Linked DNA regions of Homo sapiens. The protein of the gene in region 4 interacts with the protein of the main gene of each other region in a pairwise test. Each region holds a gene or a part of one and is shown on either strand. Other genes may lie near its edges.

Evidence for each region.
Region 1: the proteins of LMNB1 (region 4) and KPNA5 interact in binary tests that used the Homo sapiens proteins (3 or more experiments, as listed by UniProt).
Region 2: the proteins of LMNB1 (region 4) and FAM169A interact in binary tests that used the Homo sapiens proteins (3 or more experiments, as listed by UniProt).
Region 3: the proteins of LMNB1 (region 4) and KPNA6 interact in binary tests that used the Homo sapiens proteins (3 or more experiments, as listed by UniProt).

Annotation. Positions count from the first base shown.
Region 1 is NC_000006.12:116,676,375-116,684,226, reverse strand, and holds the start of KPNA5 (importin subunit alpha-6), read right to left. Parts: upstream 3,017-7,852; 5' UTR 2,893-3,016; coding exon 2,889-2,892; intron 2,781-2,888; exon of another isoform or gene 2,735-2,780; coding exon of another isoform or gene 2,675-2,734; intron 1-2,674. UniProt on the Homo sapiens protein: Functions in nuclear protein import as an adapter protein for nuclear receptor KPNB1. Binds specifically and directly to substrates containing either a simple or bipartite NLS motif.
Region 2 is NC_000005.10:74,863,369-74,870,386, forward strand, and holds the start of FAM169A (soluble lamin-associated protein of 75 kDa), read right to left. Parts: upstream 3,020-7,018; 5' UTR 2,797-3,019; exon of another isoform or gene 1,962-2,796; intron 1-1,961.
Region 3 is NC_000001.11:32,111,049-32,118,073, reverse strand, and holds part of KPNA6 (importin subunit alpha-7), read right to left. Parts: intron 1-7,025. UniProt on the Homo sapiens protein: Functions in nuclear protein import as an adapter protein for nuclear receptor KPNB1. Binds specifically and directly to substrates containing either a simple or bipartite NLS motif.
Region 4 is NC_000005.10:126,808,120-126,815,144, reverse strand, and holds part of LMNB1 (lamin-B1), read right to left. Parts: intron 4,966-7,025; coding exon 4,795-4,965; intron 3,373-4,794; coding exon 3,247-3,372; intron 1-3,246. UniProt on the Homo sapiens protein: Lamins are intermediate filament proteins that assemble into a filamentous meshwork, and which constitute the major components of the nuclear lamina, a fibrous layer on the nucleoplasmic side of the inner nuclear membrane.

The DNA.
Region 1 (7,852 bases), on a different chromosome or scaffold from region 4:
AAACTGCTCAATATGGCCGGGCGGGGTAGCTCACACCTGTAAACCTAGCACTTTAGAAGGCCAAGGAGAGTCGATCGCTTGAGGTCAGGAGTTCAAGACCGGCCTGGCCAATATAGTGAAACCCTGTCTCTACTGAAAATACAAAAATCAGCTGGGCATGCTGGTAGAAGCCTGTAATCCCAGCTACTCTGGAGGCTGAGGCAGGAGAATTGCTTGAACTCGGGAGGCAGAGGTTGCAGTGAGCCAAGATCGCTCCAGCCTGGACTCCAGCCTGGGAGACAGAGCAAGACTCTGTCAAAAAAAAAAAAAAAAAAAAAAAAAAAAAAAAAAGGCCGGGCACGGTGGCTCACGCCTGTAATCCCAGCACTTTGGGAGGCCGAGGCAGGTGGATCACAAGGTCAGGAGATCGAGACCATTTTGGCTAACACAGTGAAACCCCATCTCTATTAAAAATACAAAAAATTAGCCGGGCGTGGTGGTGGGCACCTGTAGTCCCAGCTACTCAGGAGGCTGAGGCAGGAGACCCCGGGAGGGAGACTCCTGGCATGAACCCCGGGAGGCGGAACTTGCAGTGAGCCAAGATCATGCCACTGCACTCCAGCCTGGGCCACAGAGTGAGACTCCATCTCAAAAAAAAATAATAAATAAAAGAGGGAAACCGCTCAACATAACTTTACTAATAACAATGTTTGGTATTATTCTCTATTTTATATCTATAAAAAGCTAGACTCTTGAAAGGAAAAAATTAGAGATCAGAGTTCATTACAGTGCAAACTGACCACAGTATTAGTTGTTGAATTACGCTCAATATATATAAAATATTTAAGTAAAATAAAATGCTCATGGAAATAAAACTCTTAAAGTATTTATCACCTATATATGTAGCATATTCTAGGCCACTGGCTCTAAACGTTTTCAATCACACATCCTACATTCGTAAAATACATTTGTGCATTCATCCTCAATATATTTATTTCTATACATGCATTACTATTCTAATATACTACTCTAGCATAAAATTCACAAAAAACAGAAATTTTTAAGAATGAAAGTTTTAAAAGGTAAACAAATAGAAGTTCTAATATTTTCTTACCACATCTGACTGGATCACCTTGTGCCCCACCACGCACACATACAAAGGCGCTACTTATGAGACCATTAATCCAAGCAACCACATTGTAACTGTTCAGCATAAATTTTAGCCAAATAAAATACAGCACCAACAACTCAGATATCACTTGTTCCTTTTTCTTCAATAGTACTGACTTCCGGCTTCAGATTTAACACTGCATCCATCCTCACTGCAGTTGCTTTAAAGGGGACAATAAACCAAGGGAAATTATCTCTAAAGGGGCCCCATCCAATGGGATTGTTTCGTTCACTGAAAAATAAATTTAAAGGCTGCACTTCAAAGGCTGAGGTCTCATAAAAATTAAATATTTTTATTTAGAAATGTTATTCCAGCACTTTAAAGTTACAGAATAGAGGAATTTTTTTCATTCATAAGCTTTCAACGGCTCTTAGAAAAACCATGTTTAAGTTGGGCAAATAACTGGAATCTGAACTTATGATTTTCTTTAATATCAATCGACATTATTTCTTATGCCAGTAAAGCCTTCATTTCCATGGGGCTGGGCGCCTCATTAGTGAAAGTAAAAGACTGCACAAAGCGGGGGAAGTGCCAACTAGAGAGCCCTCACAACCAAACAAGCAGTACTTAGGTCGGAGGGAGAGAGTTGCTCCTGACCTACCAAGAAAACCACTTTTGTACAGAATATGAGTCATCATTATTGGGTGTTGTAATTGAGAGATAAATCATTAGTGTTTTTGTCTTTTTTAAAAAACATGTCTAAAAAGCTCAAAAGTAAATGCCAGTGTCATATTCTTTTGTTTGTTTTTTGAGACAGAGTCTCGCTCTGTCGCCCGGGCTGGAGTGCAATGGCGCTCTCGGCTCACTGCAAGCTCCGCCGCCCGGGTTCACACCGTTCTCCTGCTTCAGCCTCCCGAGTCGCTGGGACTACAGGCGCCCACCACCATGCCAGGCTAATTTTTCCTTTTTTTGTATTTTTGGTATTTTTTTTGTATTTATTATTTTGTATTTTATTTTGTATTTTTTGTATTTTTGGTAGAGACGAGGTTTCACCGTGTTAGCCAGGATGGTCTCGATCTCCTGACCTCGTGATCCGCCCGCCTCCGCCTCCCAAAGTGCTGGGATTACAGGCGTGAGCCACCGCGCCCGCCGCCAATGTCATATTCTTTAGACATATCACTGTCATTTCACAGCTTTCAAATACTTCCATCTCCTATGTATTATCGATGAAAACCTAAGTTTTCATCTTAGAACGGAGCTGCCCGACTATTAGAAGCGTGGAACCCAGGCTTGCCTTGTCGTCGGGAATGAGCACTAGAGGCACCTGCACGCAGGTGGAGGAGGGAGGCTGGCGGATGGAGAGGGCGAGGCTAGGAGGCCCTCGGGATGGAACCTGTCTCTTCTTTGGACACTGTGGAATTTCCATAAGCTGCTGGACACAGCTGATGGGTACCAGGTATGAGTGGCAACGTTTGGCAATTCCATTAACTGAAAAGAACTACCGAGAAACGGTGAGGCGGGGCGGCGAAGATGAGACCAGCTGCCCATCACTCCAGAGGACCTGCTGAAAGAATCTGAACTCACCACGCCTTCGCGTCCGCAAGGGAAAGGTCCGGCTGCCACGCCCCCGCGACCGCTGTCGCCCTGGGGAAAACACGAGAAACACCCGGCACCGCCAGGTTCCAGAGACCTTCGCAAAGTAAGGGGTAAATAAAAACCGTGGCCCCAGGAACTAGTAGTTCCCAAAGGGACCAAAACCGAGGCTCCCCCAACCTAGCCCGTGTTCACTCCAACTTACCCATTAATGTGGCACTCTCCGATGCCCTGATTTCCCAGTCCCCAGCGGCGACGTGTGTGGCGGGTAACAGAAGGGCCGCCACTCCGCCCCTGGCGTGAAGCGTAGCGACCCAGTTCGCAATCCAAGATGGCGGCCACCTGCGCCCCTTCTCCGAGACCCCGAGGCTCGGCTCCCAGAAGCCCTTGCACTCGACGCGGCGGCGGCGGCGGCGGCGGCGGCGGCGGCGGAGGAGGAGTGGTGGCCGCACATCCTAGCAGTGGGGCGTAGAGAAAGTGCGCGCCGCCGTCCCACCCACCGAAGGAGGAGCCTGTGCCTGCGACAAGCCCTGGATTTTAGTTGCGCTTGCGGTGGCCATGCTGTAGGTACTCTGCGGCCCGTAGACCTCCGTGTGTGCAAAGGGACGACCCCTCATTCATTCATTCTTCACGCGTGCGTGCATGCATACATTCTTAAGGATATAAACTGTGTCAAGTACCATTTTAGATACATTATTGGGGCTACAACAGTGCAAAAAAGTTGGTAAAAATCGCAGCCTTGTTAAGTGTACGGAGAAGCTCACGTTTTCTTCAGCTTCATTAACTTTTATATGCTCTGCTCGTTTTATTTCAAGCTTTTTGTCATTTATAATTTTATATTCTATAACATCTGCGGTTTTTTGTTTTTGTTTTTCTGTTTTTGGGGGGTTTTTTTTGAGACGGAGTCTGGCGCTGTCACCAGGCTGGAGTGCAGTGATGCGATCTCGGCTCACTGCAACCTCCGCCTCCCAGGTTCAAGCGATTCTCCTGCCTCAGCCTCCCAAGTAGCTGGGACTACAGGCATGCGCCACCACGCCCAGCTAATTTTTGTATTTTTAGTAGAGACCAGGTTTCACCGTGTTGGCCAGGATGGTCTTGATCTCTTGACCTCCTGATCCGCCCGCCTCAGCCTCCCAAAGTGTTGGGATTACAGGCATGAGCCACCACACCCAGCCACATGAGTGTATTTTTGACAGCAATGTAGTCACCAATAAACGAGTAACTTCAGTTAAAGTACTGTAGATTATAATACACAGCCCTGTAATCTACCCTGGAGTTCAACAAACGGTATTGAAAACAGACTGTGTTCCAGATGCAATAGGAAGAGAATAAATAAGATAAACAATACATAAATCCTGCCCAGAAGACGTTTGCAATTTTTTAAGAGGAAAAACATGAAGACAAATTGTTTTAAGATGTTTGCTATTTTCAATAGTTGAAAAATAAACAGGAGAGAAGGGATTATTTAACTGTGGGTATGTAGGGCTGAGAAAGGCACGCTTGACAAAGGAAACCTGGGCAGTGTTACCAGAAAGCGTTGCCAATCATGAGTCCATATAGTGAAGTGAAAGCAAGTTTATTAAAGAAGTAAAGAAACAAAAGAATGGCTACTCCATAGGCAGAGCAGTGGCTTGGGCTGCTGGACTGAGTATATAGTTTTTTTGTGTGTTGTTTGTTTGTTTTGACACGGAGTCTTGCTCTGTCGCCCAGGCTGGAGTGCAGTGGCGCCATCTCGGCTCACTGCAAGCTCCGCCTCCCGGGTTCACGCCATTCTCCTGCCTCAGCCTCCCGAGTAGCTGGAAATTTATTGTATTTTTAGTAGAGACAGGGTTTCACCGTGTTAGCCAGGATGGTCTCAATCTACTGACCTGGTGATCCTCCTGGCTCGGCCTCCCAAAGTGCTGGGATTACAGGCGTGAGCCACCGCGCCCAGCCAGTTATTTCTTAATTATATGTTAAACAAGGGGTGGATTATTCATGAGTTTTCAAGGAAGGGGGCAGGCAATTTTTGGAACTTAGGGTTCTACCCTCTTTTAGACTGTATGACTTCTGGATGTTGCCATGGCATTTGTAAACTGTCATGGTGCTGGTGGGAGTGTCTTTTAGCATGCTAATGCATTATAATTCACGTATAATGAGAAGTGAGGATGACCAGAGGTCACTTTTGTCTTCATCTTGGTTTTGGTGGGTTTGGCCTGTCTTCTTTACGACATCCTGTTTATCAGCAGGGTCTTTGTGACCTGTATCTTGCGTGGACCTCCAATCTTCTGTGACTAAGAATGCCTAACCTCCTGGGAATGCAGCTCAGTAGGTCTCAGCCTCGTTTTACCCAGCACCTGTTCAAGTTGGAGTCACTCTGGTTCAAACGCCTCTGACAACAGGACTATTGGAGTACTGATAGGAGTTTATTTGCCTTAATCACCTGGCCACCCTATCCCTTTCTTATTTCCTCCCTACTCCTCCGTCCTGGGAGACTGAATTCAAATAGACAATGGCCAGAGAATATATACAAATAGAACACTAACCTACAACCTTCAACAACCAGTCCAGGAAGGCAACCTACTATGTCCAGTAACCAGTCCAAGAAATCAGATTACTATATTTAGCAACCAGTCCAGGAAGCCAAGCAATAACCCTTGTAGCAATCTACCCCAAATGGCCAGGACGTGATTAATAACTTACAGCTTCTGTAAGTTTTGTCAGGGCTTCCAACTCAAGGCCAGCTAGAGAGAGCCAAATATCTACCCACCCCTAAATAATTACATAGGATGCCCTGCTTTTAGTTAGCCCACCTGCAGCTTCTCCATGCCAACAGCCTTGAATTGGCATACCTGAAGCTTTCCCTTTTTTCCACTCTAAAGCTTTCTCACTCCTCTGCCTGCCGTTGAGTCTCTGACAAATGCAAGTGATGATGGCTGACTCCCTTGCTATTGTAAGCTCCAAATAAATTTGGCTTTGCTTGTTCTCATTTAGATGGTCTGCACTTGTTTCTATACTCCTGAAGAAGATTCCTGCTATCTGGACATGCCTTCCCTCTGGATAGATATGGCAGAAGAGATGATAATGGTGTCTTTTAGACCTCTGCTCAGCAGGGTCTAGGTCCCGGCTTTTCATATCCAGGAAAGAACTGGAGGAATAGGATTGGTATCAAGATGCTGACTTCATTAGTTGTATGCAATGCCAACCACAGCAACTTCCTACCAAGACCTGACCTTCTATGGCATCTTTCCCAATCTGCCTGTCAAAATAAAATCCACTTCTCAGTGGTCCTTTTATCCCAAAAGCTGCTGCCTCAACAGTAGAGAGCGTATTGCCCTATTAGCTTACCTCCTCCACAAGCCATGATGGAAAAGAAAGGGTTCTAACCCATTGGCTCACCAATTTCTTTTTACTTAAGCAGATGCTATGGTCTGAATATGTTTGTCCCTCTCAAATTCATGTGTTGAAACCTAACCCTCAAAGTGATGGTACTAAGAAGTGGGGCCTTTGAGAGGTGATTACATCATGGGGATGGAGTTCTAATGATGGGATTAGTGCTCTTGTAAAACAAGGTCAAAGGAAATGCCTTGCCTATCCACTATGTGAGTGTAGAGGTACTGTCTATGAGGAAGCCGGCTATCATCAGACACTAAATTTGTCTGAGCCTTGATCTTGGACTTCTGGCCTCCAAAACTGTGAGGAATACAGATGATCCTCAACTTACAATGGGGTTATTTCCCAACAAACCCATCAGTAAGTTGAAAAATATTGTAAGTCAAAAATGCATTTAATACACCTAACCTATTGAGCCTTATAGCTTATCCTAGACTACTGTAAACATAGTCATAACACTTAGGCTACAATTGGGCAAAGTCATGTAACACAAAGCCTATGTCAGAATAAAGTTATAAAGAATTTTTGAATCAAAATTCAAAATTTGAAGTATGGTTTATTATTAATGTGTATCACTTTTGCACCATTGTAAAGTTGGAATGTCATAGGTCAAACCATCATAAGTCGGGGACTGTCTGTAAATGTTTACTGTTTATAAGTCAACCCATTTTTGGTATTTTTGTTATGGCAGCCCAAATGGAATAAGGAAGCAGGTAAGTTATCAAAGTAAGAACATACTTCTTCTGAGATCCTGTTGATCACTGCAAAATTAAAATTTGATATACTTAACTTTACAATGACAACATGAGATAGGGGACACTGAGGCACAGATGAATGTGTAAGTAAACTTTCCACTGTCACAGGGCTAGTAAGAAGTAGCTGTGATTCGTACCTAAGTAGTTTATCTTAATGAGAACTAGATTAAGACTCAAAGTTATCAGTAGCAGGATCATATAATTTGTGTTAACCAGGACATTTTTGATAGTGGAATGGGGTACTAATAGTAACTTTTTTGGGATGACTGTCCTGGGCAAACTGGGACACATGACCATCCTAATTGTTGAAGTTGTAAATTATTGTTAAATTTCCCTCACTTCTGTAGCACAAGTCATTCCACACAACAGCATGTATCCTTGCTGCTATCGATAGGTCTGATCCAGGATGTGGGGACAGAGTGACTTTATTTGAAATGCTAATCTGCCATTAGCATTTCTGACTAACCCCAAGTCCAGGAATGCTCCCAAAATGTCTAGTTGATGTATTACTCTTTAAGTAGGAACACCTATTCACCGTAAGTTTCCTCCAAAACAATCCTTGATGCTGCTACAGAAATCACAGGCTGTGACACCTGTAGCCACCTAAACATTCCTTCCAGAGTACGTATATTTTCCCTAAGATATAAGCCCTGGGTTTAGAGAGTTAGCCCTGGGTTTAGTGGTATGGAGATCTACCTGTCTTGCGGCCACCCAAGACCACGCTTCTGTCTGTAAGTTCCCCTAATAAATCACCCAAGACCAATTAACTTGATTTTTCTGCCTTTTTGGGTTCTTGGCTCCTTCAACATTTGGCAGTTGCTTTGCATATACAGCCCTTTCACGGAACACAGGGAAACAGACTGAGATTCAAGATTTGCCACCTGATATTTATTGCAGAGTGCTCTTTGGGAATAATAACAGGAGTGAGGAAGCAGGATTCTACAGAGAGATAAATTATGTTGCATTATTAGCAACAGAGACTTCAGACAATCTTATAGGAAGTGCAGAAGCTGGGATGGCCCTTCAGAATTGTCACTGTTGA
Region 2 (7,018 bases), about 52 Mb from region 4:
TAATGGCATGTGAAGAGACTATCGTCTTAAATACAATAATCACACAATTCCTTTTTTCACTTAGAATCATAAAATCTTAGGGGAAGGAACATACAAGTTTTGTTTAACTTCCTACCCAAACAACAATCCTTTATACAGAATCCTTGACAGATATTGTGGGAACCACTACATGAATACTCAACTCTCTTATGTTGTACTTACCTTTAAAAAGTAAATCTTACTGAATTTTTAGGCAGATGACTGAACATAGTATGCTTAAGGCTTAAAACGGAGTATTTAGGTAGGAGCTAATAGAGAAAAATATTCGATTTTTCTTTTCAATTTCTCAACCATTGGTAAATAATGCTCAAAATCTCAAGCAACTTCAAAGACAAAAGCACACCAAGATCACTTCCAAACTGGAGTCAATACAATCTTACCAATTCAGTGAACTTCTCTGACTTGTATAATAACAGAATCAATGTAAAAGTTTAAGAGTTGTGTTTGACTCAGCACTGTTATTTGCTAGAAAAAAAAAAATCTCATTCCCCATAGGCCTAGGATAGGTCCAGACAGGTCACCTGCAATCTCTAGCAGGCAATCTTTGCTTACTTAAATTCCCTAAACCAAGACTCATCTCTAAATGTCCAAGGTTCTTCTCGCCTCCATAATTCTCCCTATAGAATAAACATATCTATAATGGGAAGCACGATATTTTTGCCAGGGATGGTACACAATATGTAATCACTTGTTTGAAGACAAAATTAGTGGGAGAGTCTTCAACAAAACAGAAAATAAATAGTTTAATTTAATAAGGAGGATGGCATGGAAACTTTACCTCAAAAGCACTTAATTATTTTGTTTTCTCCAAATCAAAATCCTTTGTTGGATATATATTCCATCTTGGTGTTTCACTGTTGTTGCCCAGGCTGGAGTGCAAGGGCACGATCTCGGCTCACCGCAACCTCTGCCTCCTGGGTTCAAGTGATTCTTGTGCCTCAGCCTCCCGAGTAGCTGGGATTACAGGCATGTGCCACCACACCCGGCTAATTTTGTATTTTTAGTAGAGACGGGGTTTCACCATGTTGGCCAGGCTGGTCTTGAACTCCTGACCTCGTGATCCACCCGCTCTGGCCTCCCAAAGTGTTGGGAAAACAGGTGTGAGCCACCGCACCCGGCCTATATCCCATCTTTATTAAATAAATACCACTTGTAATGACATGAATACTATCTCAAAGGTCAGACTAATTTGAAGCCTTTTAGAACCTAAAATCCACAGGTAAAACACCTTAATTTATGGTCACTCATGTGGAAGGTCAATGTTGCTACTCACATAAGCTATTTCTAAGTTCCCCAAACAGATCCCCATCATTAACTTAGAGAAAAGTCCACTATAATAGCTACAAGATTTCTGTGAAAGACGATCATGTTTTATCTTTGTTTGCGCTTCAAGTGTTAGGATAAACGGACTTTTCCCAGGTGCCTCTCACCATCTCATTCCTTGCCTTTCCTCCAAAACAAGCAAAACTAAAACACTAAAAATTTTAGTCTGGTCCATACTAGTCAATAAAAATCTTTCCTCTTGTAAACACTTTATAGCACGATAAGGGACGTAGTTTGCAAAGATCATCTGTACATCCTGTGTAAAAAATAAAAACGCATGGCACACCAAACCCAGATCCACTTCGGTGAATTCCCTCCAGGGCCCAAATGTGTGCATTATGCAACAGCCAGCACTCCCGATTGTAATCCCTGTCTGTGATGCAATGACAAAATATAAATGGCTTGGGTATAATCTGCTCAGTTCGTAAGTAGTAATTCGCAAGAAGCCAACGAATTAAAAGAATTCCCAAATTCTCAGGAACCTTGAAAATGACAAATTGTGTCACAGTTCTGTGAGAATCACAATGAAAACTTTCCCTTCTGGAAATTTTTTAGAAATATGTCCCTCCGGTCCCAATCCCCCAAAAACCCGTACACACGTTTTAATTTACGTTAGGAACGGCTCTCCCAGCGGGGGAAGGTGACCTGCATCAGGTGGTTATCTTCGAATCCACCCGATACGATACCCACGCCGCTTCCCAGACGCTGAAAAGCCAGTGAGATGCTTCATCCTTTCTCCCCAAGGACAGTCATGGGAGTCAGTGTAATCCAGACCCCCGAGCCATAAACCACCCAGGGTTCAAGGCTTCACCTCCTGAGGCACAGGCCTCTTGAAAAATGGCATAATGGAGAGCTGAGAACACAATTAGGACAAAACTGCAACGACCAGCATTCCAGAGGAGGGAGAATCATACAATATCTGTTCCAAAAGTAGTTACAGGTAAAGGAAGGCGGTCAGAGCATCTCTGGAGGCCACCTGGTCGGGTGAACCGAGTCTAAACGCTGAAGTTCCACACCTCCCCGAGTCCGCGTCTCCCCAAGCCAAAGCAATCAGCTCGCACGCCAAGCATCCAGGTGGGGAGAGGGCGAGGGGAGGGGGCGGCAAGCCGCAGCTGCGAACCGGCCCGCGGCGGAGGCGAGCGAAGACGGGCATTCCCTCACACAAAATGGTGGCGCCGAGGCGGAGGCCGGCGCACCTGGGGGCGCCACACGCCCTACGGGATCCCCGCAGACCGCCGCCAGCTGGACGCGAGCCCCGGGTCCAGGCGGCCCGCACTGGTCTGCGCCAGGCCCAGCCCGCAGGGGCCGCCCACAGCCGGTGGCCCGCGTCGCCGCTCGGTGTCCGCGGGTCTGGTGCTGGCGGGGGCGCGGGGCCCGGCGCGGCCGTCTCGGCCTCACCCAGCGGTCCGCGCCGGGGAGAGGGAGCGCACTCACCTCAGACGCGCCCCGGGAGCCGCTGGAAGAGCCCGGGAAAGGAGGCGGAGCCGCGCGAATGAATGGAGCCGGCGGCTGCTCGCTGGCGACCTCCGGCCGGTCCCAGGCCGCACAGCTCGCGGCTGCCAGGGCGAGTGCGGCTGCCTCCCGCTCGCCCCGGACGCCCGGCTCCTCGTCGCGGGTCGGCCGCGGCCCACCGTGCCCTCCGACGACGTGACGCACTAGCGCCGCAGCGCCTCCAGCCTTCGCTTCCGCTCCGCGCCCGCGCCCACCGCGAATCCCCCCGCCCGCCAGCGCGGAGCGGCCCCTCCTCGGAGCCTGGGACGCCGCCCTGCCTCCCTCCAGCCCCGGCTTTCAGGCGCCGGCCCGGCAGGTGCGGGCTTGGCCAGCCCGGGGGCGTCACGCGGCCCCCGCCTCGCCACCCGCGCCCCCTCTCTCCGCCCCGGCCGCCGTCACCCGGCAGCGCGACGCCCAGCTCAGGGCAATGGCCTGGTATTAAAGAGTGACCTTGGCTTAGATATAAAAATAGATGCGGTTAAGCCGCGGGGGCTGCAACGCTGATTTTGCGTATTCCTTTAATGCCGACCTTCGCAGGATTCTGTTCGCATAGCCCGGTGGAGTTCTCCAGCCCCGCGTAGGCCCTCCTGAAATTTACCCAGAGTGGGCGCGGCCATCCCGGCCTCGGGACAGGGGTGCAGAGGGCACGGGCGAGGACCGCCGGCCTCCGCCCCACCACTTTCATCCTAAACCTACTGCCACTTAGGTGCATGCAAGTTAGAATCGTGGGCTGCTTTCACAGTCTACAGAAGTCCTAGAGCCCGGACTTTCATCTGGAGATGTCAGGGAAATACCACATTCCTGCGCTGACCTTTTCTCTTTCACCGTTTAACCGGTACAGAATAACCCTGACCCAGAAAGACAACAGGGTTCCATCCGGCTTTCCTCCCGTGCCTCTCCCAGCTCTATTCTACCGTCTTATGGCCTCTGGCGCCTTTGCTAATTACACACTCCTACTGAAAATTAGCCCTCCAGCATTTAAAACATGATAAATTGTCTTTAAGGTAATGCGTATTGTAGTCTAAATATATTTAATAACTGTATTGAGAAACAATATTGTATCTAAGTATTAATGTCAAGACTTTCTTTTACTCATCATCCAAGAACCGTAGTATTATGTTCAGCTCATCCAGAAAAGTTGAAAATTGCTTCTTTCATTCCTGGGAAATATTTAGCAATCACAATACCAACTTTCACGAATTTACTAATGATTAGCAAAATTAGCAAGATCAAAAAATACTTCAAAGAATGCTTGTTGATATAGATATATTTGACCCTGATTTTTAAAAAAAGCTTTTCTGCCATATAAGAATCTATTGTTTCATTTGTATAATATTTAATTAGCCAAAATCTTTACTATTACACATCATTTACCATTTTAATGAAACTTAATGAATTAGATTTAATAGAGCAGGAATTTTGGGTAGTTGGGTTCTACCCATAGCCAGTGATGAATGAAATTATATGACTTGTATTTACATTTCTAGAGCTATGTGTAAGTAGGAGTCCCCAGGGTAATCCCAAACAATTGCCATTTGGGGAAGCTTTGGCTACCAGACTATGCCCTACAGATGTTGAAGCCTCAGGCCTTAGTGTAAAGCTAACCAATACAACTTGTTGATAATATTTGAAATGCCTGGGTGTGATTGACTCTTAGCTATTGTTTTAGAAGTATGCGGGTATTTGTGCCTGGGTCAGGGAGGCCTGGCTCCCAGATGTCTGGCTATTCTGGTAGGAGACAGAACTACATTCACCCAGACCTATAAAAGAAAAGGTCCAATTTTTTTTTTTTTTTTTTTTTTTTTTTTTGAGACAGGGTTTCACTCCCACAGCCTAGGCAGGCTGGAATGCAATGGCGCGATCTCGACTCACTGCAACCTCTGCCTCCCAAGCTCAAGCGATTCTCCGGCGTCAGCCTCCGGAAGAGCTGGGACAGAGGTGCACACCAACGCACCTCGCTAATTTTTGTAGAGACGGAGTTTCGCCATGCTGCCCAGGCTGGTCCTGAACTTCTGAGCTCAAGCGATCCGCCCGCCTCGGCCTCCCAAAGTGCTGGGATTACAGGCGTGAGCCACTGCGCCAGGCCTGATTCTCTTTTCCCTACTTGCAAATGACACTATTTTTGAGAGTTTTTGGTTTTTTCTTTTTAAATCACCATTGACTTCCCTCTTTGGCTGAGATAAATTTTGCTTATCTTAGTGGGCAAAGAACAACAACTAAAAACATGAGCCTTTGTCAGATTAGTATATGCTGAAAATTGTTACCACAATATTTTGAAATATGCTTTGAGGCTTTTTTCTGAACCGTTTTTAGAGTAAAAGGATTATTGCTTTGGTTTTTGTTTTTGCAATGCTTGCTTTAATTATTACTTTGTTATTAGCAAAGGAAACATGTTAAGAGTTCGTTCTGATTGTATTTTTCCTCTATGTTTAAAGAGGAGTGGAACCATCTTAAGTAAAAGAAGCTTGCCACAACCCTGGATTTTGGAGGTTACTAATACACATGACCCAGAAAAGAGCTCTTTAGTTGCACTGGGGAAGAGGAATTCTTAATAGCTAAAATCATAACTGATGTTTTTGACAGCTAACAAATTGCCAGGCACTCTACAGACTTCTTTATGGAAATTAATTCACTTAATCCTCTTACCATCCTTGCAGGTATACACTGTTACCCCCAGTTTACCTAAGAGGAGTCTTGAGGCACACAGAGAAACTAAGCAATTTGCCCATGGTCACACAGATAGTAATCCTAGCATGTTGGCTCAAGAGCACACTCCCTTAACCAGAATTCCATACTGCCTTAAATGTGCACAAAATCCTATACCATATGGATAGATTTTGCTTTTGAAGCCCTAAAACATACTAAATGTCCTATACTTTCAAGTTTAAATAATTTCTTAGATCTAGTATTTTCCCAGACAGGAAGGAAGAATTAAAACTAGTTACAAGTTTACAAGTTAGAAAGAAAACTTGTAAAAACTTCCTCTGGTATATACTAAGCAAAATTTTATAATCTGTTAGTTTTTGAAAAACACATTTTTCATTTTTACATCATTTAAGTGTAATTGCTCTCCAAGTCCCGTCCCCCAGTTCCAGGGCATAATTACAAGTTTTCATTCTGTTTATTTAGCGCGTGGAAAAGACACATTTCCTTAGAAAGATTTATCATCATCTTTGACACTCCAATAAGACATAAATATGTTGGGAACAGGCCCCCCCAAAATCTCGCCATCAACTGGCCCCAAAACTGGCCATAAACAAAATCTTTGCACCACTGTGACATGTTCGTGATGGCCGTGACGCCCACGCTGGAAGGTTGTGGGTTTACCAGAATGAGGGCAAGGAACACCTGGCCCACCCAGGGCGGAAAACCGCTTAAAGGCGTTCTTAAACCACAAACGATAGCATGAGCGACCTGTGCCTGGACATGCCCCTGCTACAGATAACTAGCCAGAGCCCATCCCTTTATTTCAGCCCATCCCTTGTTTCCTGTAAGGAATACTTTTAGTTAATCTATAATCTATAGAAACAATGCTTATCACTGGCTTGCTGTCAATAAATATGTGGGTAAATCTCTGTTTGAGGCTCTCAGCTCTGAAGGCTGTAAGACCCCTGATTTACCACTCCACACCTCTGTATTTCTGTGTGTGTCTTTAATTCCTCTAGCGCCCCTGGGCCAGGGTCTCCCCAGCTGAGCTGGTCTCGGCATAAATGGGTAGATTTAGAATCCATCATATGTTTTAAATACATAAAATCACAGGGATTTTTTTTTTTTTGAGACTGAGTCTCACTGTGACGCCCAGGCTAGAGTGCAGTGGTGTGATCTCTGCTCACTGCAATCTCCGCCTCTTAGGTTCAAGCAATTCTCCTGCCTCAGCCTCCTGAGTAGCTGGGATTGCAGGCACGCACCACTATGCCCGGTTAATTTTTTGTATTTTTAGTAGAGATGGTGTTTCACCATGTTGGTCAGGCTGGTCTCGAACTCCTGACCTTGTGATCCACCCGCCTTGGCCTCCCAAAGTGCTGGGATTACAAGCGTGAGCCACAGGAGAACATTTTAATAACTGAGGTAGCCCAGGGATTTCTAGATTGAAACTATTAGCCAGTCAGCTAACTAGTTAGCTAATAATATCAGCCATGGCAATGTAGAAAGACAATCTTACCTG
Region 3 (7,025 bases), on a different chromosome or scaffold from region 4:
GTGCATGCCTGTAATCCCAGTTACTCAGGAGGCTGAGGCAGGAGAATAGTTTGAACTGGGAGGCAGAGGTTGCGGTGAGCGGAGATTGTGCCACTGCACTCCAGCCTGGGCAACAAGAGCGAAACTCCATATCAAATTAAAAAAAAGAAAAGAAAAACAGGTGAGATTTCTATAGGAAAAGATGGGTGGGGAAGAGATTGCTTTAGCTACTTCAGGAATGCTTATGTACAAACAGCCCATATTTTGATTAGAATCATACTGAGTAAGCGTCTCTTCCATGTATTAGCTATGAATTTGCCCAAGTTACTGAAACCTCTCCATCCTTTGGTTTTCTCAACTAAAACATGAGAATCTGAGAATTAAATGAATATATAAAGTACAGGCATATCTCATTTTACTGTGATTCACCGATACTGTGTGTTTTTTTATTGTTGTTATTGTTTTTGTCTTGAGACAGGGTCTCACTATGTTGCCCAGGCTGGTCTCAAACTGCTGAGCTCAAGAGTTTCACCTGCCTTAGCCTCCCAAAGTGCTGGGATTATAGGCGTCAGCCAGCATACCCAGCCAATGTGTGTTTTTTTTAAAAAAAAAAAAACAAATTGGGCCGGGCGCAGTGGCTCACGCCTGTAATCCCAGCACTTTGGGAGGCCGAGGCGGGTGGATCACAAGGTCAGGAGTTCAAGACCAGCCTGGCCAAGATGGTAAAACCCCATCTCTACTAAAAATACAAAAAGTTAGCCGGGCGTGGTGGCAGGCGCCTGTAGTCCCAGCTACTCAGGAGGCTGACGAAGGAGAATCATTTGAACCCGGAGGGTGGAGGTTGCAGTGAGCCAAGATCGTGCCACTGCACTCCAGCCTGGGTGACAGAGTGAAACTCCGTCTCAAAAAAAAAAAACAAAAAAAAACAAATTGAAGGTTTGTGGCAATCCTATGTTAAGCAAGTCTACTGGTGCCATTTTTCCAGCAGCATGTGTTCACTTTGTGCCACATTTTGGTAATTCTCGTAATATTTCAAACTTTTGTTTTTTGTTTTATCTGTTATGGTGATCTGTGATCAGTGATATTTGATGCTAGTATTGCAACTGTTTTGGGGTGCCATGAGCCATGGTCATATAAGATGGAGAACTTAACTGATAAATACTGTGTATGATCTGACTGCTCCACCAACAAGCCATTCCACAGTCTCTCTCCCACCCTATTCCCTGAGATACAACAATATTGAAATGAGGCTAATTAATAACCCTACAATGGCCTCTATTTGTTCAAGTGAAAGGGGCAGTTGCATGTCTCCACATTAAGTCAAAAGCTAGAAATGATTAAGCTTAGTGAGGAAGGCATGTCAAAAAGCCAAGATATGGTGAAAGCTAAGCCTCTTGCGCCAGTTAGCAAAGCTGTGAATGCAAAGGAAAAGTTCTTTTTTTTTGTTGTGAAGGAGTTTCCAAGTCTGGAGTGTAATGGTGCGATCTCAGCTCACCGAAACCTCCACCTCCTGGGTTCAAGCGATTCTTCTGCCTCAGCCTCCCAAATAGCTAGAATTGCAGGCATGTGCCACCACACCCGGCTAATTTTGTATTTTTAGTAGAGACAGGGTTTCTCCATGTTAGTCAGGCTGATCTTGAACTCCTGACCTCAGGTGATCCGCCTGCCTGGGCCTCCCAAAGTGCTAGGATTACAGGCATGAGCCACTGCACCTGGCCAGGAAAAGATCTTGAAGGAAATGAAAAGTACTAGTCCAGTGAACACACAAATGTTTAAAAAAAACAACCGGCCGGGCGCTACTCAGGAGGCTGAGGCAGGAGAATGGCATGAACCCGGGAGGCGGAGCTTGCAGTGAGCCAAGATAGGGCCACTGCACTCCAGCCTCTGTCTCAAAAAAAAAAAAAAGAAAAGAAAAGAAAAAACAGCCTTATTGCCAATATGGATAAACTTTTAGTGGTTTTGACAGAAGATCAAATCAGCCACAATACTGCCTTAAACCAAAGCCTAATCCAGAGCCAGGCTCTAACGAGACTGGTTCATAAGGTTTAAGGAGCCGAGCGCAGTGGCTTATGCCTGTAATCCCAAGACTTTGGGAGGCTGAGGCAGGTGGATCACCTGAGGTCAGGAGTTCGAGACCAACTTGGCCAACATGGTGAAACCCCATCTCTACTAAAAATACAAAAATTAGCCAGATGTGGTGGCGGGCACCTGTTATCCTGGCTACCTGGGAGGCTGAGGCAGGAGAATCGCTTGAATCTGGGAGGAAGAGGTTGCAGTGAGCTGAGATCATGGCACTGCACTCCAGCCTGGGCGACAGTGAGACTCCGTCTCAAAAAGAAAGGGTTTAAGGAAAGAAGCCATCAATGTGGAGGCCAAACTCAGTGACTCATGCTTGTAATCCCAGTGGCTTTGGAGGCTGAGGAATAAGGATCACTTGAGGACAGGACTTGAAGACCAGCCTGGGCAACATGGTGACACACTGTCTCACAAAAATTTAAAATTGGCTGAGTGTGGTGGCACACACCTGTAGTCCCCAGCTACTTAGAAGGCTGACGTGGGGGGATCCCTTGAGCCCAGGAATTAGAGGTTGCAGTGTGCTATCTTGCCACTGCACCCCAGCCTGGGTGACAGACAAAAACCCTATCTTAAAAAAAAAAGTTGGGCACAGTGGCTCACGCCTTGTAATCCCAGCACTTTGGAAGGTTGAGATGGGCGGATCACGAGGTCAGGAGATCGAGACCATCCTGGCTAACATGGTGAAATCCCATCTCTACTAAAAATACAAAAAAAAATTAGCCGGGCGTGGTAGCGGGCGCCTGTGGTCCCAGCTACTCGGGAGGCTGAGGCAGGAGAATGGCGTGAACCCGGGAGGCCGAGCTTGTAGTGAGCTGAGGTCGCGCCACTGCATTCCAGCCTGGGCAACAGAGAGAAACTCCGTCTCAAAAAAAAAAGTGAAGCCGGGTGTGGTGGCTCATGCCTATAATCCCAGCACTTTGGGAGGCTGAGGTGGGCGGATCACTTGAGGTCAGGAGTTCGAGACCAGCCTGGCCAACACGGCGAAACACTGTCTCTATAAAAATACATAAATGTTCTGGGCGTGGTGGCACACACCTATAATCCCAGCTACTTAGGAGACTGAGGCACCATAATTACTTGAACCCGGGAGACAGAGGCTGCAGTGAGGCGAGATCGTGCCACTGCACTCCAGTCTGGGTGACAGAGTGAGACACTGTCTCAAAAAAGTGCAAGGTGAAGCAGCATGTGCTGATGCAGAAGCTACAGCAAGTTATCCAGAAGATCAAGCTAAGATCATTAATGAAAGTGGCTACACTAGCCAACAGATTTTCAATGTAGAAGAAACAGCTTTCCATTGGAGGAAGATGTCATCTAGGACTTTCATAGCTAGAGAGAAGTCAATGCCTGGCTTCAAAGCTTCAAATGACAGGCTGACTCTCTTGTTATGGGCTAATGCAGCTGGGGCCTTTAAGTTGAAGTCAATGCTCAATTACTATTCTGAAAATCTCAGAAGCTTAAAACGTATGCTGAATCCACTGTGTTTATGCTTTATAAATGGAATAAAGCCTGGATGACAGCACATCTGTTTACAGCTTGATTTACTGAATATATATATATATATATATATTTTTTTTTTTGAGACAGAGTTTCGTTCTTGTCGCCCAGGCTGGAGTGCTGTGGCGTGATCTCAGCTCACTGCAACCTCCACCTCCCAGGTTCAAACAATTCTCTTGCCTCAGCCTCCACAGTAGCTGGGATTATAGGTGTGCACCACCACACCAGGCTAATTTTTTGTATTTCTAGTAGAGACAAGGTTTCACCACATTGGCCAGGCTGGTCTCGAACTCCTGACCTCAAGTGGTCTGCCCGCCTCGGCCTCCCAAATTGCTGGGGTTACAGGTGTGAGCCATTGCGCCGGCCTAATGTTGTTTTCCCACCTGTTAATACAACATCCATTCTGTAGCTATACAGAATCCATCCATTCTGTATGAATTAAGGAGTGATTTCAACTTTCAGGTCTTATAAAAACATTCACGATTCATAAGAAGTCAAAATATCATAAATAAGAGTTTGGAAGAAGTTGATACCAACCCTCACGGATGACTTTAAGAGGTTCAAGACTTCAATGGAGCAAGTTACTGCAGATGGGGTGGAAACAGCAAGATAACTAGAAGTGAAAATGTGATAACTAGACAACTGAAAATATGATTGAATTGCTGCAATCTCACGATCAAACTTGAATGGATGAGCAGCTATTCTTACGGGTGGGCAAACAAATGGTTTCTTGAGATGGAATCTACTCCTTGTGAAAATGCCGTTAATCCTGTTGATAAGACAATAGGCTGGGCAAGGTGGCTCACACCTGTAATCCCAACACTTTGGGAGGCTAAGGCAGGAAGATCACTTGAGCCCAGTTCAAGACAGGCTTAGGCAACACTCTTTAAAAACAATTTAAAAAATTAGCCGGGCATGGTGGTGCATGCCTGTAGTCCCAGCTACTCGGGAGGCTGAAGTAGGAGGATTGCTTGAGCCTGGGAATTCAAGGCTGTAGTGAGCTGTTGATAGCACCACTGCATTCCAGCCTGTGTGACAGAGTGAGACCCTGTCTTAATAAATAAAAAAAACATATATACATACATACATACACACATACATGAAATGACAACAAAGGATTTTTGGGGTTTTTTTGAGACAAGATCTTGCTCTGTCGCCCAGGCTGGTGTGCAATGGCACAATCATCTCACTGCAACCTCAACCTCCCAGGTTCAAGTGATTCTCCCACTTCAGTTTCCTGAGTAGCTGGGACTACAGTCACGCGCCACCACACCCAGCTAATTTTTTAAATGTTTTTTTAGAGATGGGGTCTCACTATGTTGCCCAGGCTGGTCTGAAACTCTTGAGCTCAAGCAGTCCTCCCACCTCATCCTCTCAAAGTGCTGGCATCATAGGCGTGAGCCACCAAGACCGGCAGATTTAGAACATTACATAAACTTAGTTGATAAAGCAGTGGCAGGGTTTGAGAGTACTGACTCTAATTTTGAAAGGTCTATGGCAGAGAGAAATGTTATCAAACAGTATCACATTACAGAGAAATCTGTGGTGAAAGGAAGAATCAATTGATGTGGCAAATTTCATAGGTTGTTACTGCCACCCCAGACAATCACCACCCTGATCAGTCTCAGCAGCCATCAACATCAAGGTAAGACCCTCCACCAGCAAAGATTACAGCTCACCAAATGGCAATTTTTCACAATAAGGATTTCTTAATTAAGATATGTACTTTTGGCTGGGCATGGTGGCTCATGCATGCCTATAATCCCAGCACTTTGGGAGGCTGAGGCAGGCAGATCATGAGGTCAGGAGTTCAAGACCAGCCTGTCCAACATGGTAAAACTCCGTCTCTACTAAAAATACAAAAATTAGCTGGGTGTGGTGGTGGGCACCTGTAATCCCAGCTACTCAGGAGGCTGAGGCAGGAGAATGGTTTGAACCCAGGAAGCGGAGGTTGCAGTGAGCCGAGATCACGCCATTGCACTCCAGCCTGGGTGACAGACAGGGCCAGCCTGTCTCAAATAAATAAATAAATAAATAAAAGAGGTACTTTTACTCTACATATTATTGCACACTTAAGAGACTACAGTATAGTATAAAGATAACTTTTATATGCATTGGAAAACAGAAAAATTCATGTGACTTGCTTTATTATATTTGCTTTATTGCAGTGGTCTGGAACCAAACTTGCCTTAGCTCTGAGGTATGCCTCTACTTAGAAGAGTACCTAGCACATAGCAAGTTCTATACAAGTGTTGGGTATTATTATTATTATAGCTTTCCCATCTCTGTCTTTGTTTGTGGTTCACACATTTTGGTGCAACCTGGGTTAAAATACAAACTGGCAAAAAATAATAAAATAAAAGCTGGCAAGTCTCTTTTAAATAAGGAAGGCTTCTCCACAAGTTCCCCAGGCTTCCCTTCCCATCTAATTAGCAAGAACTGCATCATATGCCCATGCCTAAATCAATCACTGTCTAGGGAGCTAGAGTTACAATGATTGGTTTAGAGTTTATATCAAGACCCACCCCTTGGGGTAAGGAAGGGTGGCCAGATTCCCAGTTAGCACAGTAGTAGTAATGGTGAAAAGACAAGTAGTGTCTGCCAAGACTCATGAGGTTGTAGTCTCTGCTAGAGGGTCAGAATAAAGCAATCTCCAGAGCTACAAATATCACCCCTACAGGGCACCTAGTGGCAGGGAAATCACTGCAAAGGTCTGTTAAGGGTAATGAAGTTTGGCATAGTAGAAATAGTGTAGGATATACGACTGAGCTAGTAGGATACAGACTGAGAGTACACTTAAGAGGCAGTGAAATACGGCAGGTTCCGTACTTGTGGGCATGTGAAGGCAGGCTGTGTTAGTGTCTCCAGTGCCCAAAGGATCCAGAATACCAGCCTTGGACTAGTCACCTAATCTTCTCAAAGCCTCAGTTTATAAGTGTAAATGGAGATAACCCAAGATACCTTAGATTAGATGTTAGAATTAAATGAATGCATTAGTTTGGTCTACAACAAACAAAAAGCTGACATTCATAAAGACAAGCTACGATGAGGGAGAGGTACCTGAGATGGAGCTGGAAAGAGGAAGTTACCTGACTCTAGGCTAAAAACCCCCTTCAAGACCTTGGTCAGGGTTTGTTGCTCCACTGAAGAACTTTCATGTTGAACTGTACCAGAATAGGACTAACTTTATTTCTTAACTTCTTAAGTCTTATAGATTTATGTGCTGCAAAATGGGTAAGAATCTTACTCCTGGCTTTGTGGCTTACTGGCTGTGTTATCTTCTCCGAGACAGTTTCCCAATCTATAAAACTGAGTAAATCTCTACTTATTTCACTGAGCTTATTAAACATTAGTTCCTTCCCTTTGAGGCAACAGTGTTTCTGAAACTGAAGACCAATATAAAATTTATAACAAAGTTTATAACATAAAACCCCCTAAATTTTTTTCACTGAAAGATGAAGCTCCAGCTACTAAGA
Region 4 (7,025 bases):
ATTCAAAAAGATAACATTTTTATTTTTGATGATTTTTCTAAGGCTAAAATTTATCAACTAATAAAAATATTCCTCAAAATATACTGTTTACCATAAAGTCTGTTACCAATAATGAACAGAGGAAAGATTCACCCCAGAGAAATTAAAAACTATTTTGGCTAAAGGGATTGCTCGTCTCCTATCTGCTAAGGAGTTAGCTCCTGGAAACCCCCAGTGCACTGCCTAACATTACTTAAAAACCACTAAGATAAGGTTAACAAAAAAAACTTGCAGCCAGGCACAGTGGCTTACACCTGTAATCCCAGCATTTAAGGCAGCAGCTCACGCCTGTAATCCCTTCCATTTTGGGAGGCCAAGGTAGGCAGAGTACCTGAAGTCAGGAGTTTGAAACCAACCTGGCTAACATGGTGCACCCCATTTCTACTAAAAATACAAAGAATTAGCTGGGCGTGGTAGCGCGTGCCTGTAATCCCAGCTACTCAGGAGGCTGAGGCAGGAGAATCACTTGAACCTGGGAAGCAGAAGTTGCAGTGAGCTGAGATAGTGCCATTGCACTCCAGCTTGGGCAACAAAAGCAAAATTCTGTCTCAAAAAAAAAAAAAAACCAACTTGCAAAAATGGGAATTCAATTAACAGGGAAACAGCCTTGAACCTAGGTTAGAACACATAGCTACTAAGTTTCAGAGCCCACTACTACTTATTAATAACAGTCTCCTCATCCAAAGCACAGTGAAGATCAACCTCAAGAGAAGATCTGTACTAAGTAAATCAAATGGATTAGGCAGCAGCCAAAAAAATAATAATACAGTAGGAAAAAATAAAATTGAGGGATAGACAGTAACTAGTAGACAACTTACTATTAGTAAATGGAAAAGAGTAGTAAATGCCAACTCAGTACAAGAACAGAGAGGCCCATTTTTGGAAAAGTACCTGTTAAGACAGTTGATATAGGCCAGGTGCAGTGGCTCACGCCTATAATCCCAACACTTTGGGAGGCTGAGGCGGGCGGATCACCTAAGGTCAGGAGTTCAAGACCGGCCTGACCAACATGGAGAAACCCTGTCTCTACCAAAAATACAAAATTAGCAGGGTGTGGTGGTGCATGCCGGTAATCCCAGCTACTAGGGAAGCTAAGGCAGGGGAATTGCTTAAACCTGGGAGGCGGAGGTTGCAGTGAGCCGAGATTGCGCCATTGCACTACAGCCTGGGCAACAAGAACGAAATTCTGTCTCAGAAGAAAAAAAAACAACAAGAAAAACAAAGACAGTGATACAGTCTGTGTGTTTGTGTTCCCACAAATTTCATGTTTAAATCCTAACCCTCAAGGTGATGATATTAAGAGGTAGGGCCTTTGAGTGGTAATTAGATCATGAGAGGAAAGCCCTAGTGAATGGGATTCATGCCCTTATAATATAGGGCCAAGGGTGCTCATTCACCCTTTAACCATGTGAGGACACAGCAAGAAGGCACCATCTATAAATCGGGGAACAGCCCTCACCAGGCAGATATCCAATCTGCCAGTGCCTTGATCTTGGACTTCCCAGCCTCCAAAACTGTGAGAAATAATTTCTGACATATCTGTTGTTTATAAGCTACCAAGTCAATAGTAGTTTGTTATAGCAGCCCAAAAGGACTAAGACAGATGGTGCAATGGAAAAAAAGATTATCTGTTAAATTTCTAAAAGTAAATCTTCTTTGAAGAAAATGAGTTATAAAAGGAAAAACTGGGAAGGAGTAGAGAAACCCATTTATCAGTCTGCAGCCTCTGGGCAACGGGCAAATCATTAAACTCACCTAGATCTGTGGTTACATGGAATGAACTCAGAGGTGCTTCCAGCTCTGCTATTAAATGAAAATCTTCAAAACACTATCAGCACAAAATAGGTTTAAAATAATTTAAAAATTTGTGCCGTAAGTAACAAAGCACATGATAGACAGTGTAAAAGCCCCTGTGTTAACTAAATTATTTTATATCACCCCATTTTATGGGACTCATTTTCTGCTTTATTTCTAAGTTCCTGCAACAGAGGTCATCAGTTTTATAATTAGAAAAATATTTTACTAAAAATGGTAAAAAGAAAAAGGAAGGAAGAAAAGCCCAATCAAGAGTAAAATAGGCTGGGCACGGTGGCTCACGCCTGTAATCCCAGCACTCTGGGAAGCCGAGGCGGGTGGATCATGAGGTCAGGAGATCGAGACCATCCTGGCTAACACGGTGAAACCCCGTCTCTACTAAAAATACAAAAATTAGCCGGGCGTGGTGGCACGCACTTGTAGTCCCAGCTACTTGGGAGGCTGAGGCAGGAGAATGGCGTGAACCCGGGAGGCGGAGCTCACAGTGAGCCGAGATCGTACCACTGCACTCCAGCCTGGGCGACAGAGTGAGACTCCATCTCAAAAAGAAAAAAAAAAAAAAAAAAAAAAAAGTAAAATAAAGTTTATTCTCATGTGGAAAATTCAAAACAAGATTTCCTCCCTTGAGGAAAATAGAAGCGGAAGTTATTTCCAAAATAATTAAGGTGACGAGTTAATTGCTGAATCATTCTGAATGCAGTATATGGAGTATATGTACTTTGTGTCCACACTGACATCACCCTAGGCTAAAACTGATCTGAAGTAGTGTCCATGCCTGCTTAAGCAGCACCTGAAGCACACCATCACACCCTGATAGGCAGCCAGTCAACACAGCCGGCAATAATGCCATTTGTCACTTAGGCGTACCAACGAATGAATGAGTCACTAAATTCTTATCGGAATATGCAAATTAAAGCTACTTTCCTGGATCCTAATTGTTATATACTTTAAGCACTAAAGAATTTGTCTAGAAACACAAAGCATTCACCACCCACAAAGAATTTTTGCATGTTTTTCTTCATTTTGGTTTTCAAATGATATAAAAAAGGAAGGTGTTGAGAATAACTCTGTAGAGATGAAGCTGTTAGACAGGTCGGAAGATCCGGGTCCTAGGGTAAGTACAGTGAATAAACTAGCAGGCTCCTTCCTCAAGGGCAAGTCCCTTAGCTCTGTGTAATCTACTAATTAGGAACAATAGTATCTGCTCACAGGATGTTTATGCAATGCAAAATGAACGAATCTAGAAAAGTACTGTGAAGACGAAAGCACAGGATGACACCATCCTCTGTAACAAACAGAGGGAGGAGTGACATCAGCCCAAGCAAAGCAGGTAGGTGCCCGTGGTGAAGGTAGCCTTCAAGTCTAACTTCTTACAGAAAGATGATTATTTACCTCTTTCTGTAGATTAGAAAGCTGGGATGAAAGGCTCTCAATTCTCATGCGGCTTTCCATCAGTTCTTCCCTGGCACTGTTGACAGTAGAAGTATTCATCTCTGATGACAGTCTGGCATTCTCAAGCTAAAAGAAGAAGCAAAGCATAGTCAGTCTTATCTAGAACTGAAACAAAAAAGGAAGCATGATTCACCTCAAGGCATTTCAAACCTAAGTCCTGCTGGTAACTGGTAGATGAAACACAGGAAAAGCATCATGAAGTTTGCTGATATGGTGTGAATGATGGTAATTCTGTGTGACTTTTAGAGTCACTTCCTAAATAATGAGCTTTAAGAATGCTAATATACCTAGGCCTTTACCCAAAGCTTATTACTTCAATATTTCATCTATTAAACCTTTAATGTCTAAGATAACACTGATAATAAGAAGACTGGGCAATAGCAACTTGACTGTGGTGGTGTCTGTAAGAAAAGAAACATCACATATCCCTAACCCACCAAATCCAATACAGAATGTAAACCAACAAGCAGAAAATACTAGTTTATAGATTCGTTCAAACCAGATAGAAACACTTCCTTTCAGAAGCAAAAAAAACTCCTTGAGTAAAATACAAATCCCATAACACTATTGTGTATGTGTGTCTCAGGGACATGCTCCTGTGTCTCCTCCCTGGCTCCCTGTGAGGCCACAGTCTGTGACGGATCCTTACTTTAGCTCCTTCACTGTATAGCTCAATGTGTGATATTAGATAAATGTTATACAACTGAAGTTACTGCTTATAATAAGATCTTTCACTTTCACTAACTGCTACTTCATACAATAGATAAAAAGCAACATGAACAGTTTAAAGCCATGCAATGAAAATTTTCAATAACTCTGTGACTCTAATATTCTAAGTCAACCACAAAAAAGTCTTTTTAATCAAATCATGTAACATTTAAAACACAAGGCAAAATCATTTACCAGGGAAAGCCTGTACTAGTTGGTGATTTTTATGAATTCTTGTAAGGTCAGCTAATATAAGTGGGAAGTTTCTACAATATTTTTTTAAGTGAATAATAGTGACAGAAGAAGAAATAGCAGAGACTTTCCATTTGGCCCTTATGCAAAAAAGCCGGAAGTGTGGTAGTCACAATCTATGCACAATGATGACATGAAAGTGAGATCTAATGCAGTCTGACATTCATTCATTACTAAATGGATGTTTATGTAGGACAGCATGATCAGTACTTGTTATTGGAAGAAAGTTATTTCACATGGTTTGGGTTCAACTACTATGGCATAGTACGAATGATCAATGGGACAAAAAGACAAAACCTAACCTCTAATAAAATTGCAACAACCCTACATTCTTCTAGTAATTTTTAATAACATTTAGTTTATAGAAAACTGCACTTTTTTGAAAAAATCAATTTTCTATATATTTCATGGAGACTAGGGGAATCATTTTTAAAAACTAGAACAAAATAAACATAAAGCCATGTTCATCATGGGAATTGTGAAGTAATGATTTTAAGTGTTCAAAAGAATCTTCTGAAGAGAGCTCACTTTGGCATGGTAAGTCTGCTCCAGCTCCTCCTTATACAGCCTCACTTGGGCATCATGTTGCTCTCTCATCTCATGAAGGGCTTGCGCCAGCTTGTACTCATACTCAATTTGACGCCCAGAATCCACCTCTACCAAGCGCGTTTCATGCTTCCTTCTGGTCTCGTTAATCTCCTGGGGAAAAAACAAAAAGCATAAAGCCAAGCTACTTACCATGGCTGCATTGGTACACATCTGAGTGACATCACAGCCATCTGAAGTTTTACACACGAACTTCCTCCTGTTTGTCCTCAGGCGGTCATGTGAATAAACACTTTTTTGCCTCTTAGTTTTCAGTTGAGGTTTTTGAAATGGAACTAATGACAGAAGTGGTAGCATCTCAAGCCTTAGGAACTTTCTATTCCTTTTCAGGAGCATAGCTATTTATTTTTCTGAAGCCAAGGAAAGGCCTGGATGGCCTACTAAAACTATCTGCAATCAAGGATTTATACACAGTATACTATACTAAACACTAAGCAAAAATTATTTTTCTGAATTGTTTCATTGATAATCTTAAGAACATCTCTGAAAAAACAGCACATGGAAAGTTAAACTTAACAGTTGTGATAAATTCATGTAAAGATTTATGTGAAATGAAACTATTTTCTTTTCTTTTCTTTTCTTTTCTGAGATAGAGTATCACTCTGTCGCCCAGGCTGTTGTGCAATGGTATGATCTCAGCTCACTACAACCTCCGCCTCCCGGGTTCAAGCAATTCTCCTGCATCAGCCTCCCTAGTAACTGGGATTACAGGCACATACCACCATGCCCAGCTAATTTTTGTATTTTTAGTAGAGATGAGATTTCCCCATGTTGGCCAGACTGGTCTCAAACTCCTGACCTCAGGTGATCCATCTGCCTCAGCCACTCAAGTTGCTGGGATTACAGGTGTGAACCACCTTGCCCAGCCATAAAACCATTTTCTTAGACATAATAATAGGCAGCACAAGCTAATTTACATGACTTCTTTAAAAGCCGGTATTAAGCTATCATTATCAAGTGACACAGGATCTTATTAACAATATTAGTTGACTAACTCAAATATTTATGAAAAATTTACCATTGAAGAATAGAAGTAGTTGTCATGATCCTTTCCTTTACTCTGTTTTAAGGAAGTGTCTAAATAAAATTAGAATGGAAGGCTGGGCGCGGTGGCTCACGCCTGTAATCCTAGCACTTTGGGAGGCCAAGGCAATCAGATCACCTGAGGTGAGGAGTTCAAGACCAGCCTGGCCAATATGGTAAAACCCTGTCTCTACTAAAATACAAAAATTAGTCAGCCATGATGGAGGGTGCCTGTAATCCCAGCTACTCAGGAGGCTGAGATGGGAGAATCACTTGAACCTGGGAGACGGTGGTTGCAGTGAGCCAAGATCGCACCACTGCATTCCAGCCTGGGCAGCTGAGCTGGACTCCGTCTCAAAAAAAAAAAAATAATAATTAGAATGGTAATATCTGAAGAAGCCACAAGAGGGAAGTATAACCCACCAAAGTTGCTGTTTGTGTATATTAGCGCATGTATTTTCCTTTGCATTTCTTCATCTTTCTCTTAACTACTACACAGGAGCATGCACTTGACAAAATCTGAAAAATCAGAAAAATCAGGAGGATTCTGCTATCACCTTCCCAGAGATCACATCTATTTCATGAAGCAAATAATACCTAAATCACAAAAATACTGAAGAGTGACTGCTAATGGTTTGTTCTTTGTCTACCTCCTCCTTCCTCTTTCGTCTTTCTCCTTCCTTTTTTCCCCCAACTGTTCATAATAAGGAAGTTAGATATTATTACTGAATATATATCATGAATGTAAAAAAAAAAAGTTAAGGCCAGCGTAGTGGCTCACACCTGTAATCCCAGCACTTTGGGAGGCTGAGGCGAGTGGCTCACCTGAGGCCAGGAGTTTTAGACCAGCCTGGCCAACATGGTATTACTTAGTAAAAAGTAAGGAAAAAAAAAAAAAGTTAGCCAGTTGTGAGGGTGTGAACCTGTAATCCCAGCTACTCGTGAGGCTGAGGCACAAGAATCATTTGAATCCAGGAGGCACAGGTTGCAGTGAGCCAAGACCGTACCACTGCACACCAGCCTGGGCAACAGAGTGAGACTCTGTCTCACACAAAAAAATTTTTTTTAAAGTAAAAAAGGCCAGGTGCGGTGGCTCACAACTATAATCCCAGCACTTTGGGAGGCCGAGG